Homo sapiens: one gene and its partner. The protein of the gene in region 1 interacts with the protein of each later gene in a pairwise test. Each region holds a gene or a part of one and is shown on either strand. Other genes may lie near its edges.

What was found. Proteins that work in one complex are often made in the same cells at the same time.
Region 2: the proteins of HTT (region 1) and ZNF436 interact in binary tests that used the Homo sapiens proteins (3 or more experiments, as listed by UniProt).

Annotation. Positions count from the first base shown.
Region 1 is NC_000004.12:3,077,681-3,081,180, reverse strand, and holds part of HTT (huntingtin), read right to left. Parts: intron 1-3,500.
Region 2 is NC_000001.11:23,359,837-23,363,336, reverse strand, and holds part of ZNF436 (zinc finger protein 436), read left to right. Parts: intron 1-115; coding exon 116-1,368; 3' UTR 1,369-3,500. UniProt on the Homo sapiens protein: May be a transcriptional repressor.

The sequences.
Region 1 (3,500 bases):
ATACTCCCCAAGTTGATCTACAGATTCAACACAATCCCTCTCAGAATCCTACTTGGCTTCTTTGTTGAAACTGACAAGCTGATCCTACAATTCGTACGGAAATGCAAGGGACCCAGCATGGCCAAATCAATCTTGAAAAGGAACAAAGTTGGAGAACTCACATTTCATGAATTTAAACTGTGACACAAACTTCAGTAATCAAGACTGTATGGTACTGGCACAGGATCGACATAAAGACCAACAGGTAGAACTGACAGTCTAGAAATAAATTTATACAATTAAGGACGATTAATTTTCAACAAGGGTACTAAGATAATTCCATGGGGAAAGAATAGTCTCTTCAACAAACAGTGCTGGGACAACTGAATAACCACATGGAAAAGAATAAAGTTGGACTTCTACCTGAACCATATATAAAAATTAACTCAAAATGGATCAGACTTAAATGTAAAACTCTAAAATTCTTAGAAGAAAACATAGGAGTAAACCTTTTTGACTTTGGATTAGACAATGATTTCTTAGATATGACACTTGAAGCACAGCAACCAAAGACAAAATAGATAAACTCGACTTCATCAAAATTAAAAACTTTTACACTTCAAAAGACACTATCAAGAAAGTAAAAAGACAATCCAAAGGAAGGGAGAGTTTTTACAAATCATCTATCTGATAAGAATCCAGTATCCAGAATATATAAAGAACTATTACAATTCAACAATAAAAATACAAAGGGAAAAAATGAGAACAAGGGTTTGCAAGGTAAGTATAAGAAAGAGCCTGGGTTCTGACCGGGTGCAGTGGCCCAAACCTGTAATCCCAGCACTTTGGCAGGCTGAGGCGAGTGGATCACCTGAGGTCAGAAGTTCGAGACCAGCCTGGCCAACATGGTGAAACCCCATCTCTACTAAAAACACAAAAATTAGCTGGGCATGGTGGTATACGCCTGTAATCCCAGTTACTTGGGAGGCTGAGGCAGAAGAATCACTTGAACCCAGGAGGTAGAGGTTTTAGTGAGCTGAGATCACATCATTGCACTCCAGCCCGGGTGACAAGAGCGAAACTCCGTTTCAAAAAAAAAAAAAAGAAAGAGCCTGGGTTCCTTAACTTATTGTTGAATTTCCCCAGACTTATTTTTGTCTTCTGATAAGCTCTTGCTTGTTACCAGTTTAAGCTATTGCAGCAGGATTTTCTGTTACTTGCAGCTGAATACAAACCTGATAACGCAAGCTACTGCTAAATTGTTATACTTAGCAGAGTTCAACAAGTGCAGTTGGTTCCGCATTCAAAATCCAGTCAGTCATTCCTCACACTGCCCACAGCCGACAGCCGGTACCCTGACAGAACCCACCATGCTTATCTGAGCACTGCAGTGGCTTCCTAACTGGTTTCTGCTTTTGCCGGTGTTCCCCTTCACTCTGTTGTCAGCCAGAGTTCACTTAAGATTGAAATTCAGATCATGCTACTCCTCTGCTCTAATCCTCCAGTGACATCCCATCTCACTCACATAAATGCCAATATCTTTATTCCATCTACAAGGCAAGTAGTATTGGTCTGATATGGCACTCCCTTGACCTCTTGGACCTTACTTCTTACTACAAATGTCCCCCTCACTCAATTCACCCAACTAAAATGACATCCTTGCTATTCCTGAAACAGGAAGATTTTGGACCTGTTCCCCCCATCTGGAATACCACTACTTCATACACCCTTACACTAGACTCTTAACTCGCTTGAGGTCTTTACTCAAAAGCCATCATCTGGCCAGGTGTGATGGCTCACACCTATAGTCCCAACACATTGTGAGGTTGAGGTGGGAGGATCACTTGAGCCCAGGAGTTCAAGGCTGAAGTGAGCTACGATAGTGATACTGCATTCCAGCCTGGGTTAAAGAGCAAGACCTTGCCCCCCAACCCCAAAAAAAAAAAAAAAAAAAGCTGTCTTCTCAGTGGACCTTCCCTGAACACCGTATTTAAAATATCAACACTGGCCAGGTATGGTGGCTCATGCCTGTAATCCTAGCACTTTGGGAGGCCAAGGCAGGCAGATCACATGAGGCCGGGAGTTCGAGACCAGCCTGCTCATCATGGCAAAACCCCATCTCTACTAAAAATACAAAAATTACCCAGGCGTGGCCGGGCACAGTGGCTCATGCCTGTAATCCCAGCACTTTGGGAGGCCGAGGTGGGCGGATCACAAGGTCGGCGGATGACGAGGTCAGGAGATCAAGATCATCCTGGCTAACACGGTGAAACCCCGTCTCTATTAAAAATACAAAAAAATTAGCTGGACGTGGTGGCAGGCGCCTGTAGTCCCAGCTACTTGGGAGACTGAGGCAGGAGAATGGCGTGAACTCGGGAAGCGGAGCTTGCAGTGAGCTGAGATCGCGCCACTGCACTCCAGCCTGGGCGACAGAGCAAGACTCCGTCTCGGGGGAAAAAAAAAAAATTACCCAGGCATGGCAGTGCATGTCTATAATCCCAGCTAAACAGGAGGCTGAGGCATGAGAATCACTTGAACCCAAGAGGCAGAGGTTGCAGTGAGCCAAGATCACACTAGTGCACTCCAGCCTGGCTGATAGAGCAAGAACTGTCTCAAAAAAAACAAAACAAAACAAAATAAAATAAAAATGTCAACACTTAGTGCTACAGCTCTTTTGGAATTTGTCTAGCAGGCTTTCTGGGTTTTGCTGGAAAGCCCTTAACAATTTTTTTAAAAATAAAAATAAGTTAACACTCGATTAACCCTGACATTTCCCTATCCCCTTCCCTGCTTTGAAGTTCCTCCACGTATTAACGTACTGTATATTTTACTTATCTATCTTGCTTACTGTCTATGTCCTTCATTAGAATGAAAGCTTCACGAGGGCAGAGCTTTGTCTGCTCACTGCTGAGCCCTGCACCTATAACAGTGCCAGGCACATAGTACATGTTTAGTAAATATTTACTGATGAATGAATAAAGTCAGGGAAACACCAGATAGGAATCTGAAGGAGAATAAGAAACTGCCAGAAGCAAGTATTAATTGCCTCCTAATTACTGTGAGGACCCTCCCAAGCATGCTAGATTTGCTGAGCCTGCAGCCAGCCCCATAAGGAACTCCTGCATCCTGTATGCTGAGCAGAGCACAAACACTCATAAACTGAGGCCCATGCATGGCGTGACACCACAGTTCCACACCAAAGAGCAAGAGCCATAAAAACAGAACAGATACTTTCTAAATTGCTTTCATCAATCTTACTTTGAGAAGAGGATTTTTTGGCTGAAGCACGTGAACAGAACTGCCAAAATCCAAACTTTGTGAGCAGTGTTTGTTACTCAAAATTAGTGAATACCTCCTTTCTCAACAGCAAAATACAGAGAAATATGACAAATATGCATTTTATTTAAAATAACTATAAAACTATAAATAAACCTAATGCAGTTGATTTCAGAGCATGCTAAGAACCTTTAAAAGTTATTATTCTAGCCAGGCATGGTGGCTCACACCTGTAATCCCAGCAC
Region 2 (3,500 bases), on another chromosome or scaffold:
AGCCAAGGCAACACAGTGAGACTCTGTCTAAAAAAAAAAAAAATTTAGTATAGTGCCTGGCACACAATAGGTAATTTTTGTACTTACTAGTCTTATTGTTTACTTTTTATTACAGATTTTGAGATCAGGAGTGAGAACGAGGTAAATCCCAAGCAAGAGATTAGTGAAGATGTACAATTTGGGACTACATCTGAAAGACCTGCTGAGAATGCTGAGGAAAATCCTGAAAGTGAAGAGGGCTTTGAAAGCGGAGATAGGTCAGAAAGACAATGGGGAGATTTAACAGCAGAAGAGTGGGTAAGCTATCCTCTCCAACCAGTCACTGATCTACTTGTCCACAAAGAAGTCCACACAGGCATCCGCTATCATATATGTTCTCATTGTGGAAAGGCCTTCAGTCAGATCTCAGACCTTAATCGACATCAGAAGACCCACACTGGAGACAGACCCTATAAATGTTATGAATGTGGAAAAGGCTTCAGTCGCAGCTCACACCTTATTCAGCATCAAAGAACACATACTGGGGAGAGGCCTTATGACTGTAACGAGTGTGGGAAAAGTTTTGGAAGAAGTTCTCACCTGATTCAGCATCAGACAATCCACACTGGAGAGAAGCCTCACAAATGTAATGAGTGTGGAAAAAGTTTCTGCCGTCTCTCTCACCTAATCCAACACCAAAGGACCCACAGTGGTGAGAAACCCTATGAGTGTGAGGAGTGTGGGAAAAGCTTCAGCCGGAGCTCTCACCTAGCTCAGCACCAGAGGACCCACACGGGTGAGAAACCTTATGAATGTAACGAATGTGGCCGAGGCTTCAGTGAGAGATCTGATCTCATCAAACACTATCGAGTCCACACAGGGGAGAGGCCCTACAAGTGTGATGAGTGTGGGAAGAATTTCAGTCAGAACTCCGACCTTGTGCGTCATCGCAGAGCCCACACGGGAGAGAAGCCATACCACTGTAACGAATGTGGGGAAAATTTCAGCCGCATCTCACACTTGGTTCAGCACCAGAGAACTCACACTGGAGAGAAGCCATATGAATGCAATGCTTGTGGGAAAAGCTTCAGCCGGAGCTCTCATCTCATCACACACCAGAAAATTCACACTGGAGAGAAGCCTTATGAGTGTAATGAGTGTTGGCGAAGCTTTGGTGAAAGGTCAGATCTAATTAAACATCAGAGAACCCACACAGGGGAGAAGCCCTACGAGTGTGTGCAGTGTGGGAAAGGTTTCACCCAGAGCTCCAACCTCATCACACATCAAAGAGTTCACACGGGAGAGAAACCTTATGAATGTACCGAATGTGAGAAGAGTTTCAGCAGGAGCTCAGCTCTTATTAAACATAAGAGAGTTCATACGGACTAAGCTGTAATTATGATGGCTGAGAAATGATTCATTTGAAGATACAATTTTATTTGATATCAATGAACGCCCTCAAGACTGAGCTGCTTTTATCATACTCTCCTAGTTGTGGGCCACGATTTAAACCATCAGAGATGACAAGCCATTTGAAATTCTGACCCTCAGCTTTGGGAATGTTATCTCCTCCAAAATGGTGATTTTTATTCACTCAATGGGTTACTTCATTAAAAGCAGCCCCACAAGTAACTGGAAATCTGAAGACCAGGGGACAAATGCTGGTGAATGCTTAGGCCTGGAAATGGAGTAAATCTTTCAATGTTATTTTCTCCCATCCTTGGCCCAAGGAACTATGCTAAGTGAAACGTGGGACTGTAATAGGGTGGTAATGGCTGCTTTGGAAAAAGGCAACTAGAGACTCTGCCTAAATTGCCACACCTATTCACACACCATAGTAGTTGGGCACACACATCTTCCCTTCCAAAGGGCTTTTTCCTTGAGTTGCTCATGCATTTGTATCTTTTCCATCTTCCTGAGGGCAAGATTTTGCACGATGAAGGCAATGATTGTAACTTTTCTCCTTCTCATTGTTTCTAATTAGCTCCTTTAAAGCTTGCATCTTTGTGAAGGCTAACTGAAGATACGGTTGGAAAGGAAAAATGAGACACAGGTTTGGGGACCAAGGACCCATCAATGATGGTGACTTTAGCAGAAGATGCCCACAGTTATTACTGCCATTAATCAGATTTATGAATTTTCTTTGGGGATCACTATAGGGAATATTGTATAGAAAATATCTTCAAGAAAAGATAGGACCATCAGTGACAGTTAAGTGTAAGGAGCAAGTGGAATTGAGTCCTTCAGGGAAGGAACCACAGAGTCCCTTCCCAAGGAATGTAGGTCGTTTCTGTGTTCTTTCCCTTCTAATCTTTAAGATCAACTCTTCCTATCCTGCTAACTCTAAGATTTGATAAGGGCCACATCCCAGTGTTTATCTTAGCTTGCATCAGGGCATGTGTATGTACAGTAATGTGTATTCCTGTGGTTTTTCTAATAGAAACTGAATTTACAGAGACTTAGCATGTTCTTGGGTGATGTGAGTCATGTGACAGAAGTACAGACATAACTCCAATGTGAGAAATGTCCTTTTTTCATTATGGAAAATAATTTAAACACTAGTGCTTTAGTGTGCACTCTCCTGTAAGGTCTGTCTTTGTACAGAGCTAAGCACTTGTTTGTATGTGTTTGTCAATTGTGGAAGATAATGACCAGACAAATAGGTCGATTGTCCTATTCTCAGAATGAATTATCTTCTATGGTAATGAAGAACTCTTTGGCTTAGTCAGAAGGAATTAACGAACCTCGGTAGGAATGTATTTCCATCCTCCCACCCTACAGATATAAGAGGTTAAAATAACAGTTCGCCCAATTTAAGCCCAGTAGTGTCAGTTTTCCTAATCTCAGTCCAGGTAGGAATTAAGAAATATCTCAAGTGTTGATGCTATCCAAGCATGTTGGGGTGGAAGGGAATTGGTGCCCAGAAAATGGGACTGGAGTGAGGAATATCTTTTCTTTTGAGAGTACCCCCAGTTTATTTCTACTGTGCTTTATTGCTACTGTTCTTTATTGTGAATGTTGTAACATTTTAAAAATGTTTTGCCATAGCTTTTTAGGACTTGGTGTTAAAGGAGCCAGTGGTCTCTCTGGGTGGGTACTATAATGAGTTATTGTGACCCACAGCTGTGTGGGACCACATCACTTGTTAATAACACAACCTTTAAAGTAACCCATCTTCCAGGGGGGTTCCTTCATGTTGCCACTCCTTTTTAAGGACAAACTCAGGCAAGGAGCATGTTTTTTTGTTATTTACAAAATCTAGCAGACTGTGGGTATCCATATTTTAATTGTCGGGTGACACATGTTCTTGGTAACTAAACTCAAATATGTCTTTTCTCATATATGTTGCTGATGGTTTTAATAAATGTCAAAGTTCTCCTGTTGCTTCTGTGAGCCACTATGGGTATCAGCTTGGGAGTGGCCATAGATGACCGCATTTCCATGACCTAACTGTATTTCACCCCCTTTTCCTTCCCTACTGTTCTTGCCCCACCCCAACCAGTTCCTGCTGCTGCTTTTGG